2 linked regions of the Homo sapiens genome follow. The protein of the gene in region 2 purifies or fractionates together with the protein of the main gene of each other region. This does not show direct contact. Each region holds a gene or a part of one and is shown on either strand. Other genes may lie near its edges.

What was found. Proteins that work in one complex are often made in the same cells at the same time.
Region 1: the proteins of TULP4 (region 2) and CUL5 purify together in Homo sapiens (affinity purification with mass spectrometry; 5 studies listed by BioGRID and IntAct, with this or other methods). This does not show direct contact.

The regions. Positions count from the first base shown.
Region 1 is NC_000011.10:108,088,873-108,096,206, reverse strand, and holds part of CUL5 (cullin-5), read right to left. Parts: intron 6,716-7,334; coding exon 6,584-6,715; intron 1,817-6,583; coding exon 1,693-1,816; intron 1,396-1,692; coding exon 1,220-1,395; intron 678-1,219; coding exon 516-677; intron 1-515. UniProt on the Homo sapiens protein: Core component of multiple cullin-5-RING E3 ubiquitin-protein ligase complexes (ECS complexes, also named CRL5 complexes), which mediate the ubiquitination and subsequent proteasomal degradation of target proteins.
Region 2 is NC_000006.12:158,497,225-158,504,657, forward strand, and holds part of TULP4 (tubby-related protein 4), read left to right. Parts: intron 1-1,444; coding exon 1,445-1,588; intron 1,589-4,453; coding exon 4,454-6,954; intron 6,955-7,433. UniProt on the Homo sapiens protein: May be a substrate-recognition component of a SCF-like ECS (Elongin-Cullin-SOCS-box protein) E3 ubiquitin ligase complex which mediates the ubiquitination and subsequent proteasomal degradation of target proteins.

The DNA.
Region 1 (7,334 bases), on a different chromosome or scaffold from region 2:
TCCTTTTTTTTGAAGCACTTTTCTCTGCCTTGGTAACTTGCCTATTTGCAATTTATTTTTTCCATAAATATCTCGTGTGTGTGTGTGTGTGCATAATTTTTTTTTTTTTTCAGACGGAGTTCTCACTCTGTTGCCTGGGCTGGAGTGTAGTGGCGCAATCTTGGCTCACTGCAACCTCTACCTCCTGAATTCAAGCGATTCTCCTGCCTCAGCCTCCCAAGTAGCTGGGATTACAGGCGCCCACCACCACGCCCAGCTAATTTTTGTATTTTTAGTAGAGATGGGGTTTCACTATGTTGGCTAGGCTGGTCTCGAACTCCTGACCTCAAGTGATCTGCCCACCTCGGCCTTCCAAAGTGCTGGGATTACAGGCGTGATCCACTGTGCCCGGCCTCTATTTTTCTTGATAAGACATTCTGAAACTGTTATGAATTTACTAATATATTACAAGCCAATCATATATTTCCTGCTACATGAGAGGATACAGTCTTAAAAACAAAAAAACATAAACCAACCCATAAAGTCCTCCTAAGTTCAGCATCAGGGAGTTCAGTTGCAAGCTTAAGATTTTCAAAGCTGATTTTCTCTCTGGGTCTTTGGTTCCATGCAAACAATACAGCGAGCTGAAACGTGGTTACCTCCAAATCATATTGACCAACTTCATTCTTAAATGTTATCTATAATAGATAAAACAGATTTTTAATAAAGAATCTCATGATGATTCTCTCTTAATATCTATGACATGAATTTATATATGAAAAAGGTTGCTGTCTTCCAGTATCCACTCTTTCACAGTAATAAACATTTTAGAAGACGTTAATGACTGCCCAGAATACACGCTCATCTCCCAGCTTTCCATGTAACAAAATGTGGCCAAGTGACTGAGTACTGGCGGATGCAAATGGAAAATGACAGAGGAAACTTCTAGAAGTTGTCCCTAATGAAAGGTGTAAGCTACCCTCACCTTTTGCTTTCTGTTGCCAGGAATACTGAGATAGTTGGGATCATGTTGAATTCTGTAGACAACGGCAGTATCTTAAGTATGATGGTATAACCAGAAGCCTATGTCCCTATCAACTTCATGAAAAAAATTCACTATTTCTGCTCAAACTTTTACATGTGAGAGAGGCAAAAATCTATTTTGTTTAAGCAATTCTGCGGAGTCCTGCTACTTTCATCCAAACTGAAAGCTGAAATAACTAACACACTATCTACTTACAATTCCATTTGACATGAGATGATGCCAATGTAATTTTCTACCACTATGATTTTTTTTGTAGAATTCTTCTACTTCCGGTATCAAGTCCTCCAGTTCAGTAGGAAGTGAGACAAAGACTTTCTCAGAACTTCTTGACCAGGCGCCAGCATTCAGAATTTTTATATTAACTGAATCAGCTATAGAGAAGAATATCAGGAATATAAAGTAAATTAACAATGGATAAAATTCAAAATAAATACAGGGTAACTTTGGGTGAAAAATCAATAAGACTATAAAGATTTTGTTAAAAGTGTCCTTTTGTTTTGAAATAAAGATCTGTAAATCTAACACACTGCTTTGATAGCTGTCTCCACGGAAATGGACTTCATAACATCTTTCGATCTATTACTGCTGAGGTTTATTTTTAATTTACTGGAAAACAAAGATATTCTTCTAAGTTTAAAAAATATATACATGTAATTATAAAATAATACCTGGTAATGCCAATTTATTATTTTTGTGCATTTCCTTAAAAGCTTGGTTCAAATCTTCAGATACTTTTATGTCCTGAAACATTCTAGCAAGCTTGTTTACATAATCCGCTGGCATACCAACTTCCTATAAATATAAACCAAAGAAGGAAGAGGTAATAAATACATAATCTGATATATTACTGGGAAAAATTTTAATAGAAAAACTAAGTCTTAAATGTTTTAATACAAAATTTTTCTCATTTATTAGAATTTTATTGTCTAATACCTATGAAATTTGCTACTTAGAAACAAAATACGGTATTACAAGGGGTCCCTGCTTTGCGCATTTTTAGTATGTATGAATTTCAGTTACCACAGTACAGTTAAATAATACCAATTCCCCAAGAACAAAGCTCAACTTTCAGTTGACACTATATAATAAATTTAACTGCATGAAGTAAAAACTTTATTTCTAGCTCTTTGATCCACAAATCATGACAAAAGTAACAATGACTAACCACAATACTTCTTTCAAAATCTATTAGTTGGCATGGTGTGTAATCCTAGCACTTTGGGAGGCTGAAGCAGGAGGATCACTTGAAGCCAGGATTTTAAGACCAGCCTGGGCAACACAGTGACACCCCCATCACTACAAAAAAATTTTAAAAGTTAGCAGGATATGGCGGCATACTGCCGAGATAGTCCCAGCTACTCGGAAGGCTGAGGTGGGTGGATTGCTTGAGCCCAGGAGTTTAAGCTCTGATTGTGTCACTGCGCTCCAGCCTGGGCAACAGAAGATCCTGTTGCTTGAAAAAATTAAATAAATAAATTTTTAAAAAATGTAAACACAACCTATTAGTCATTTGTTTATTCAGTTAAACTGCAGACAGCAAAGTATGCAGTTTCATTGCATCCTTGTCTTCCAGTAATAAACCCACATGACTACTTACAAAAAAGAATAATCAAACAAGATAATTGGCAAAGATATAAAAGTAAACAGGAAATGAAAAGTGATAATGCTGGAAATGAAAATAAAATAGAACATAAATGGAGTTATAGAAGAAAGCTGACTGTGGTAGTAAGGCTGACAATGCCAGTGTTGAGGAACTTAGTGAAAGCAAATTACCAACATAAAAGATAAAAGTGGTGAGTGACAAAAAAGATAAGATACCCTAGAAGAAGTGATCCTGGCAAAAATGCTATAAAGGAATTCTCAGTATTTCATGACACTGACAGCCCAAAAGATAAAATGCTAGAAGATCATCCAAATTACAGGGGGTGTGACAACTCTCCAAGGCAAAGAAAAGATGCTTACTCTGTCAAGTTACACAAGAAGGCAAAAGCTATTCAAACTACTCTTTATTAACAGCTTTACTGTGTCAGATAATTTATCTACCATAAAATCTACTATTTTAAAGTATACAATTTGGCTGGGCTCATGCCTGTAATCCCAGCACTTTGGGAGGCTGAGGCGGGTGGATCACCTGAGGTCAGGAGTTCAAGACCAGCCTGGCTAACATGGTGAAACCCATCTCTGCTAAAAATACAAAAATTAGCTGGGCATGGTGGCATGCGCCTGTAATCCCAGCTACTCAGGAGGCTGAGGCAGGAAAATCGCTTGAACCTGGGTGGCAGAAGTTGCAGTGAGCCAAGATCGCACCACTGCACTCCAGCCTGGGCAACAAAGTGAGACTCTGTCTCAAAAAAATATAAAAAATAAAAATAAAAATAAAATATACAGTGTAATGAAGTTTAGTATATCTACAGAACTGTGCAACCATCACCACTATCTAATTTTAGAACATTTTCATCACCCCAAAAAGAAACCCCATACTATTTACAGTCACTCGTCATTTCCCCTCCTGGCCCCAACTCCTGGAATTTGTGGATTTGCCTATTCTGGACACTTCACATTAGTGGAATCATACGATATGGTCTTTGGGATTGGCTTCTTTCACTCAGCATTATGTTTTCAAAGTTCACCTAATATTGCAGCATGTATTATTAGTTTATTCCTTTTTATCACAAAAAATATTCCATTGTATGGATAAATCACATTTTATTCATTAGCTCACTGACATTTTGGGTTGTTTCCACTTTTTGACTATTATTAGTAATCTTGCCATGAACATTTGTTTACAAGTTTTTACATGAAACATGTTTTCATTTCTCTTCAAATGAATTACCTAAGAGTGAAATTGCTGGGTCAGCTCTACGTTCAACATTTTAAGGAACTGCCCAACAGTTTTCCAAAGTGTCTGCACCATCTTATGTCTCCACTAGCAACTTACGAAGGTTCCAATTTCTCCTCTTCCTTACTAGCATTTGTTATCATCTGTCTTTATTTTAGCTACCCTAGTGGGAATAAAGTAGTATCTCTTTGTGTTTTTTTTGTTTTTGAGAAAGGGTCTCACTCTGTTGCCCAGGCTGCAGTGCAGTGGCACAATCTCAGCTCATTACAACTTTGAACTTCTGGGCTCAAGCAATCATCCCATCTCAGCCTCCTGAGTAGCTAGAACCACAGGCACACATCACCATGCCTAGCTGATTTCTGTATTTTTTGTAGACATGGAGTATTGTTATTTTGCCCAGGGTAGTTTCTAACTCCTGGCTTCATGCAATCCTCCCACCTCAGCCTTTCAAAATATTTGGGATAAGCAGGAGCCAACATGTTGAGCATTTCACTTGCATTTCACTAATGACTAATGATGTTGAGTATCTTTGCATGCACTTATTGGCCATCTGTCTATCTTCTGTGAAGAGATGTCAATTCGAATCCTTTGCCTGCTTTTAATTATTTGTCGTGTGTGTGTGTGTGTGTGTGTGTGTGTGTGTGTGTGAGTGAGAGAGACAGGATCTGACTCTGTTGCTCAGGCAGGAGTACAGTGGTAAGATCTCTGTTCAATGCAACCTCCACCTCACAGGCTCAGGCGATCCTCCCACCTCAGCCTCCCAAGCAGCTGGGACTAAGGTGCATGCCATCACACCCAGCTAATTTTTTAAATTTTTGTAGAGATGGGGTTTCACCACGTTGCCCAGGCTCATCTCAAACTCTGAGCACAAGCCATCTGCCCTCCTCAGCCTCCCAAAGTGCTGGGATTACAGGTGTGAGCCACCATGCCTAGCCTTGTTTGTCATTTTACTGTTGGGTCTTGATATTTTTTTTTTAACAAAGAAATAACATAGGCCGGGTGTGGTGGCTCACGCCTGTAATCTCAGTACTTTGGGAGGCCGAGGCAGGCGGATCACTTAAGACCAGGATTTCAAGACCAGCCTGGCCAACATGCAAAACCGTGTCTCTACTAAAAATACAAAAATTAGCCAGGCGTCATGGCACAAACCTGTAGTCCCAGCTACTTAGGAGGCTGAGACAGGAGAATTGCTTGAATCTGGGAGACAGAGGTTTCAGTGAGTCAAGATTGCACCACTGCAATCCAGCCTGGGTAACACAGCAAGACTACATCTCCAAAAAAAAGAAAAAAAGAAAGAAAGAAAGAAAATTTAATTCTAAAGGTTTCTCGTAGTAAATATGTATTAGTTTTGCTATTTTCCCCTTTTTCCTATATACTTATAAGTGACAGTAAGAGTTTTGAGTCTTTTGACAATAGTTTTAAAAAGTCACAGAATAATCATTCTTTTTCCTACTAAGCAGTTTCAGTTAGCACAGTAATTTTTACTATCCTAAAGTTCCATGCGAAGGGCTAGCTATAAGTTAAAATATCTGTAGGTCTCTCTCGTGTGTGCTTGCTCGCACTCTCTCTCTCTCCATATATATGTGGAGAGAGTTATATACATACACAGAAATTAAAGATATTTACTTTAATAATTAAAACAAAAAAAGAACTCAAAATACTTTATATGGGAATTTAGTTATAATCAGCATTGATTACCCTAAATAGGCCATCATTTAAAGGTTCTTTTTGCTATACAGAAGTATTTATTGTTATCATTTATAAACATCTCTAAAGTTAAGCATTTAGTACTGAAAATACCTTAAAGATATAATAATTTGTCCTGCAGTCTATTTATTTATTTTATTTTTCTTGAGATGGAGTCTTGCTCTGTCACCCAGGCTGGAGTTCAGTGGCTCGATTTCAGCTCACTGCAAGCTCCGCCCCCCAGGGTTCATGCCATTCTCCTGCCTCAGCCTCCCAAGTAGCTGGGACTACAGGCCCCCCACCACCACGCCTCGTTAATTTTTTTGTATTTTTAATAGAGACTGGGTTTCACTGTGTTAGCCAGGATGGTCTCGATCTCCTGACCTTGTGATCCACCTGCCTTGGCCTCCCAAAGTGCTGGGATTATAGGTGTGAGCCACCGTGCCCAGCCCCTGTAGTCTATTTATTAATAAGGTCAGTTTAAATGAGAGTTGAGGTACAAATGGGAGTGAAACAGTAGAAACAACTCAAGAACAAAGATACTTTACTGAAAGTATTAAGAACATTTATTAGATATCACTTTATTTTATATAATTGATGGTATATTCTTTTTTTTTTGAAATGGAGTCCCACTCTGTTACCCAGGCTGGAGTGCAATGGCACGATCTTGGCTCACTGCAACCTCCACCTCCTGGGTTCAAGTGATTCTCTTGCCTCAGCCTCCCAAGCAGCTGGAATTACCGGAGTGCACCAGCACATCCAGCTAATTTTTGTATTTTTAGTAGAGACGCGGTTTTGCCATGTTGGTCAGGCTAGTCTTGAACTCCTGACTTCAGGTGATCCACCTGCCTCGGCCTCCCAAAGTGCTGGGATTACAGGTATGAGCCAGTGCGCCCGGCCTAACTGACGCTATATTCTTATAAAATGTTTCCTACTTCTTTGACATTAACAATATCTCCAAAATGTATTACTTAAGCACACATATAAATGATGTAATGTATTAGAAAACCAAATATTTAAAAAAATTTACTTACTCTTAGCCACTCTACCATGTTTTCTTCAATTTCACTATCGGCAGAGATGTCTAATATAAGACGTCGTGTCAAATGAGCTTTATGATACCTCATAAAAACATCTTTGTTCTGTACATACTTAAGTACCAAGAGCTGTATGAAAAATAAAGTTACTTTCAGTTCTTATATACTCTTACCATCTCTCGAATTTAGACCTTTCTATATCCACCAATTGTCACAAGTCAGAAACTTTTATGAGCATATACAGATAGAGGCCTACTGAATTATCCATCTCTGAGAAATACCCAGTCCTGATACACTACTTTAAAGGTTAGCAAAACTGAGACTATAACCAAATTGTTAGTCGGTCTAAATATCAGTTTTTTAGATTTTGTATAAAATGCAACGATATACTTTACATGAAAAAAATCAATGTCCCCCTGCAAAGTGTCTCTTCTACTTATCTTTTTCACTTTTTTTTCTGACACTAGTCATCTCTCTCGGCCTTTCTGTCTACACTTGCCCAATATCTTATTTTTTTTCTTGTTTGTATTCCTGGGCTTACATCATTACACTAACAACTGGGTGACAAAGATGAAAACAACTACTTAATCTACTCTCATTCATCCCTTGCTATCTATCTTGGACTCTCACAAAAAGGAAGGAGTGAAAAACTCCCAATCTGTCAACTATCATTCCAAATTTGTTGGAATGATATGTCCTGTATTAGTAGCTAGAACTTAATTCCTAAAAATAACCAAGAAAGGAGAGG
Region 2 (7,433 bases):
TATTAATACTAGAGAACAGAAATTAACTATTGAATACTAGAAGGTATGTTATATGTGGTACCCCATTAAATAATCTTTTCAAAGACAGTATATGGCACTCTAGTGAACTTAAAAAGTGAGTGCTGTTCCCCAGGTTGGATAATTTGTTTTCTTTAATTAGAATGATCTGGCCCATGAAATTTTTTTATTTTGAATTTTTGGCATTTTAACAATACACAGTAGATTCTACAAAATTCAAAGCATTCAGAGGGGTCTATAGTAAAAATCTCTGTCATTCTCACCATCAGCCACCTACTTTTCTTTCCTGGAGGTAACTGATGGTATTTTTCTAATCCCTCCTAGAATTTTTTTAAAAATTGCTTTGTCAATGTGAACAACAAAGAATAACACTTTAATACATTCATTCTTAAGTCATATGGAACCACACAGTATTTTTAAACCAAAATTCATATTATCTTTCCTTTGTGGACAAGAGAGAGAAACACATGCCTAGGGCCTTTCCTGCTATTGGGCAGGAGAAGTTACCTTAACCCATACCAGTCCATGGGCCAGCCCCGCAAAGATGCTTCGACAAAGGAGGCCTGCTGTGCCGCAGTCATGCTGCAGGTCAGCCGCTAAGTGTTAAGGTGACCGCCATGGAGCTAGAATAAAGAAGCTTTGTGCTACCTGTCTCACAGGAGAGACTATTGAACACAAAAGCAAGTTCACAGGGCAGTTTCACCCCGACTTTAACTACTGTGAAACTTAAATTCAGATTCATTATATTTAAACTTATTTTGTCTCCTCTAAATATTTTAGTTGCAATCTAGGCCTTCTCCTACATGTCCCTGTTAATCAAATTAAATCTTGAGGTTTTAAAAAAACAACTGTGTGGAAATTCCCTATAAATCTCTATCCTGATGGTTAGATTAAAATTGAAAGCCAGTAAACCAAGGTTCCAGCCGAAATGAAGGCTATGTTTTATTCCTACATGAAACCATGCCACCCCCATCTCAACATTGCTTTCACACAGTTTCTTGGTTGCCCAAGCTTCCCTTGTTTGGCAGTCTGGTTGTCACAACTATTTCCATTCAATCATCCTTCTGACTGCAAATGAGGTTTTTAAAAAATATGTTTTTATACCCTAGCTTATTCCAAAAGAAATGATTTGTGTCTAAAATGTTTTTAACATTTGAAATTTGTAGTTCTGTAGACAAACCATTGGCAAGGAGGCCAAGCTAGACCGGGAATCTGCTGTTACTGAATCCAGAACTGTGGCTAGTATGGTCGCATTGAGTACTAGGGAGAAATGAAGAGCTCCTCTCAGCCTCTGGGCCCTGCCTACACAGATCTGTCTTCTGATGGCAGGGAAACTGCAGTGCGCTCTTCTTCCTGTGACTCTCTTGACACTTTGGCTCTGCTCTGGTGTGTCTCTGTTAACTGTGCCCTTCTTTTTCCCCACCAGTAATCTATAAAACCAGCCTCCTGCATCTCCAGCCGCGGCAGATGACCATTTATCTCCCAGAAGTTCGGAAAATTTCCATGGACTATATTAATTTACCTGTCTTCAACCCAAATGTTTTCAGTGAAGATGAAGATGATTTACCAGGTGTGTTCACATACATCAACGTGTTTGTCACGGTCCCTCTGTCAGTAGATCATGCAAGGGGGACAGAGCGGCAAGTTGTTGAGGATTTCAGTCTGCTACCTGGGTTTGGAAAAGGTATCCCTGCCTCAGTAAGGTTGGTAGATGTGATGTTGTGTCCCAGGGGAAAAGTCACAGGTTGGCACCAGTGTTGGCAGGAGGGGAGCTGCTGGAGCACAGATGGTTCCAGTAGCAGCGGCGCCTTGTGTTTTCGGAGCACAGTTCTAACATCTGGCTTTATCCTCACAGCTATCCTCTTAGTCTTGTGTCTGGATTCAGATAAGTTTGCAGGACTGATTGGGACTAAATAAAATCAGAACTGAGACTCAATCTCATTGATCTAGGCCAGCTTTCATCCTTTCAGTCCCTGCTGAGATAGTGTCTCACTCCAGCATTCCCGTGGTGCGCACAGAGCCCAGTTTCTCAAATCTGCCGTGTCCAGGACGCAAAAGCCTTTACCTGGAACTACCTCTCTTCCACCGCAACCGCATGTCTCAGTGCACAGGGGCCTGGTCTGAGTTCAAGATAAAATCTGGTAAACAGTTTTTAAATTCCAGTTTTCAAATGGTAAATATCAATATCCATAGCATCTTAAGTTAATGTGTTTCCCAGTGGGGGGATTCTTAAAGGATCCTATTTTGATTAATAGATTACAATGACTTCCAATTAGTCTGGCCAGTTAGTTGTGTGTAACTATTTCACTAGAGGGTACTTGAAAATAACTTGCTTTTCTAAGTAAAAGGCCACCTGAGATTTTATAGATACACAGACTCCTCTACTTCCAACTAAGTGGGCTCTGGAAGTCTCTTGTTTCTGAGCTAGAGGAACCCAGACATGGACCGTGACTTCTCCAGTATCTGGATGTCTGTGACCAGAGGGACTGGTTCTTGCAGTGGACATAGAGGGCCACCCATTTCAGCTTGGGCCCTCCTCCTCAGCTTGGCTCTGAACTTGAGAGAGTTGTTTACCTTCTCTCAGCCCAGTCTTTTTAACTGAAAAAAGAAAAAAAAATGATTTATACTGCACTTTCCAACAATAGCCATCTTGCTTCTCTGTTGGTGACCTCTCCTGCATGGGTGAGCAAATCTCCTAGGCTTATGTGGTCCTAATAGGCCAAGCTTACAGCCACATAAATACCTGTAGTTTGGTGAAGCCTCCCATACCTGAGCTTTCTAGTGCATCCCCTTCTACTTCAGAATCTTGGAATTAGAAGTATCTTTTAAACTTTCCCCTTAACGCTTTCCCTGTTCTCCCAAAATGCGAGGAATACAGCCCTCTCCAAGGTTCAGCTGTTGCTGCAGTTGTCGTTATTGTCTGTGGTTCTCAATGAGAGGAGGGAACATATTGTCTCAGGGATTACATTTAATGATGGTGACTCAGTGAAGAGGCTCTTCTTCCTTAAAGGGGAAGATGCCTGCCATCAGTGTTTCATACAGACGAGAGAGCTTCTCCAAGAGGGATCTGAACAGGAATCATAGGAAACCTGAGACAGACCCAAATTTGTGTGGCCAGGGGAGAGTTATGTCTTACTAGGACACCCCAAGGAAGGGCCAGCTTAGCTTTTGATAAACTAGCTGGCTTGATTCTGTAGTTCTTTTGATGAGAAGTCAGCCAGTGTCACATTTCCTAATCATGGACTAGCTGCCACACGGTACTTACACCATGCCTCAGATTTCTGGATCAGTGGCAGTTTTCTCTAAGGGAAAAGCCACAGGGTAGCACAGTGGGCCTAGAGGAGCCAACTGCAGAGTGCTCAGTGGGCACTTTAAACAGGGTGGTGCAGACAGTGGCTCTGAGCACCTGTCTGTAGATCGCTGTTCAAATGCACGCACGCTCTGTTAAACTCTCACTGTGTACAAATAGGATATATTTATAGGGTTTAATTCAGCATGGCTCTACCTTACATACTGTTTGAAATGCTAAAAAGCAGATAAAGGCCAGGCAGGGTGGCTCACACCTGTAATCCCAGCCCTTTGGGAGGCGAGGTGGGTGGATCACCTGAGGTCAGGAGTTGGGGACCAGCCTGGCCAACATGGCAAAACCCCATATCTACTAAAAATACATAGCTGGGTGTGGTGGCGCTCACCTGCAGTCCCAGCTACTGGGGAGGCTGAGGCAGGAGAATCACTTGAACGCAGGAGAATCACTTGAACCCAGGAGGTGGAGGTTGCAGTGAGCTGAACTCCTGCTACTGCACGCCTGGGCAACAGAGCAAGACTCTGTCTTAAAAAAAAAAAAATTAGGAAATGATCCTTCATATGATACTCAGATTCACTAGAAGATTCTTTTCATTGTTTTTTCTACCACATTTTACATGGTTCTATTTACAGAAACCTAATGTGCATACATTTCTTATACACATCTGTTGCATGACACTTTCCACACTATCCATCCCATAATCATGAATAGACCTATTCAGAGGCCTAGGCACTGCAAGTCCTCAATGGAGGTTTTTCCTGTACCATTGCCCTCTTCTTGCATAAAAGGGTGGGTATTTTATGAATATCACCAGTAAAAAGCTTCTTCAGACATTTAATTATCTGTGATGGTGCCATTGAGGCACTGGTGCCAAGTTTAGAAGGTTCAAAAGTGAGTTAGTCGAAAAGTTCTGACAGTACCCTTAGCTAACAGACAGCAGCAGGCTGCCCTCAAGAACCCATCTCCCTTGTGCGAGCAGGCCAGCTTTCCCCAAGCAGACACGTCTCTGTCTCTGGCAATTTGCATTTTGTTTACAGAAGGAGACTGGATGAGTCCAGACGTATTGCTTATCCTGATCTGGTTTAATGGCAGTGTTTTTGTAAGCAGTTCCTTTTTCTAATTTTCTTCCAGTGACAGGAGCATCTGGTGTCCCTGAGAACAGCCCACCTTGTACCGTGAACATCCCTATTGCACCGATCCACAGCTCGGCTCAGGCTATGTCCCCCACGCAGAGCATAGGGCTGGTGCAGTCCCTACTGGCCAATCAGAATGTGCAGCTAGATGTCCTGACCAACCAGACGACAGCTGTAGGGACAGCAGAACATGCAGGTGACAGTGCCACCCAGTACCCAGTCTCCAACCGGTACTCCAATCCTGGACAGGTGATTTTCGGAAGCGTGGAAATGGGCCGCATCATTCAGAACCCCCCTCCACTGTCCCTGCCTCCCCCGCCGCAGGGGCCCATGCAGCTGTCCACGGTGGGCCATGGAGACCGAGACCACGAACACCTGCAGAAGTCAGCCAAGGCCCTGCGGCCAACACCGCAGCTGGCAGCTGAGGGGGACGCAGTGGTCTTTAGTGCCCCCCAGGAGGTCCAGGTGACGAAGATAAACCCTCCACCCCCGTACCCAGGAACCATCCCCGCTGCCCCCACCACAGCAGCACCCCCGCCCCCTCTGCCGCCCCCACAGCCCCCAGTGGATGTGTGCTTGAAGAAGGGCGACTTCTCCCTCTACCCCACGTCAGTGCACTACCAGACCCCCCTGGGCTATGAGAGGATCACCACCTTCGACAGCAGTGGCAACGTGGAGGAGGTGTGCCGGCCCCGCACCCGGATGCTGTGCTCCCAGAACACGTACACCCTCCCCGGCCCGGGTAGCTCTGCCACCTTGAGGCTCACGGCCACTGAGAAGAAGGTCCCTCAGCCCTGCAGCAGTGCCACCCTGAACCGCCTGACCGTCCCTCGCTACTCCATCCCCACCGGGGACCCACCCCCGTATCCTGAAATTGCCAGCCAGCTGGCCCAGGGGCGGGGGGCTGCCCAGAGGTCCGACAATAGCCTCATCCACGCTACCCTGCGGAGGAACAACCGTGAGGCTACGCTCAAGATGGCCCAGCTGGCCGACAGCCCGCGGGCCCCCCTGCAGCCCCTGGCCAAGTCCAAGGGCGGGCCCGGGGGGGTGGTGACACAGCTCCCAGCGCGGCCCCCACCTGCCCTGTACACCTGCAGTCAGTGCAGTGGCACAGGGCCCAGCTCACAGCCCGGAGCCTCCCTGGCCCATACCGCCAGCGCCTCCCCGTTGGCCTCCCAGTCCTCCTACAGCCTCCTGAGCCCACCCGACAGCGCCCGCGACCGCACCGACTACGTCAACTCGGCCTTCACGGAGGACGAGGCCCTGTCCCAGCACTGTCAGCTTGAGAAGCCCTTGAGGCACCCTCCCCTGCCTGAAGCTGCTGTCACCCTGAAACGGCCACCCCCTTACCAGTGGGACCCCATGCTGGGTGAGGATGTTTGGGTTCCTCAAGAAAGGACAGCACAGACTTCAGGGCCCAACCCCTTAAAACTGTCCTCTCTGATGCTGAGTCAGGGCCAGCACCTGGACGTGTCCCGACTGCCCTTCATCTCCCCCAAGTCTCCTGCCAGCCCCACTGCCACTTTCCAAACAGGCTATGGGATGGGAGTGCCATATCCAGGAAGCTATAACAACCCCCCTTTGCCTGGAGTGCAGGCTCCCTGCTCTCCCAAAGATGCCCTGTCCCCAACGCAGTTTGCACAACAGGAGCCTGCTGTGGTCCTTCAGCCGCTGTACCCACCCAGCCTCTCCTATTGCACCCTGCCCCCCATGTACCCAGGAAGCAGCACGTGCTCTAGTTTACAGCTGCCACCTGTCGCCTTGCATCCATGGAGTTCCTACAGCGCCTGCCCGCCCATGCAGAACCCCCAGGGCACTCTCCCCCCAAAGCCACACTTGGTGGTGGAGAAGCCCCTTGTGTCCCCACCACCTGCCGACCTCCAAAGCCACTTGGGCACAGAGGTGATGGTAGAGACTGCAGACAACTTCCAGGAAGTCCTCTCCCTGACCGAAAGCCCAGTCCCCCAGCGGACAGAAAAATTTGGAAAGAAGAACCGGAAGCGCCTGGACAGCCGAGCAGAAGAAGGCAGCGTTCAGGCCATCACTGAGGGCAAAGTGAAGAAGGAGGCTAGGACTTTGAGTGACTTTAATTCCCTAATCTCCAGCCCACACCTGGGGAGAGAGAAGAAGAAAGTGAAGAGTCAGAAAGACCAACTGAAGTCAAAGAAGTTGAATAAGACAAACGAGTTCCAGGACAGCTCCGAGAGCGAGCCTGAGCTGTTCATCAGCGGGGATGAGCTCATGAACCAGAGCCAGGGCAGCAGAAAGGGCTGGAAAAGCAAGCGCTCCCCACGGGCCGCCGGCGAGCTGGAGGAGGCCAAGTGCCGGCGGGCCAGTGAGAAGGAGGACGGGCGGCTGGGCAGCCAAGGCTTCGTGTACGTGATGGCCAACAAGCAGCCGCTGTGGAACGAGGCCACCCAGGTCTACCAGCTGGACTTCGGGGGGCGGGTGACCCAGGAGTCCGCCAAGAACTTCCAGATTGAGTTAGAGGGGCGGCAGGTAAGACCTCAGACCAGGTGGCGCTGCGAGCCCAGGAGGCGAGGGTTTCAGTGCTTCGGCCTTCAAGGAGCATTTTTCAAAAGGCCAAATGGGAAATGTGGAAAACAACGAACACCTCTTAGGTGGAGCTCATGGGGTTATGGTTTTTAGTGTGCCCACTGCTGTCTTGTATTTTTTTTTTTCTTTTTGAGACCGTCTCGCTCTGTGGCCCAGGCTGGAGTGCAGTGGCGCAGTCTTGGCTTCCTGCAAGCTACGCCTCCTGGGTTCACGCCATTCTCCCGCCTCAGCCTCCCGAGTAGCTGGGACTACACGTGCCCGCCACCATGCCCGGCTAATTTTTTTTTTTTTTTTGTATTTTTAGTAGAGATGGGGTTTCACCGTGTTAGCCAGGATGATCTCGATCTCCTGACCTCGTGATCTGCCCGCCTTGGCCTCTCAAAGTGCAGGGATTACAGGCGTGAGCTACCACGCCCAGCCCT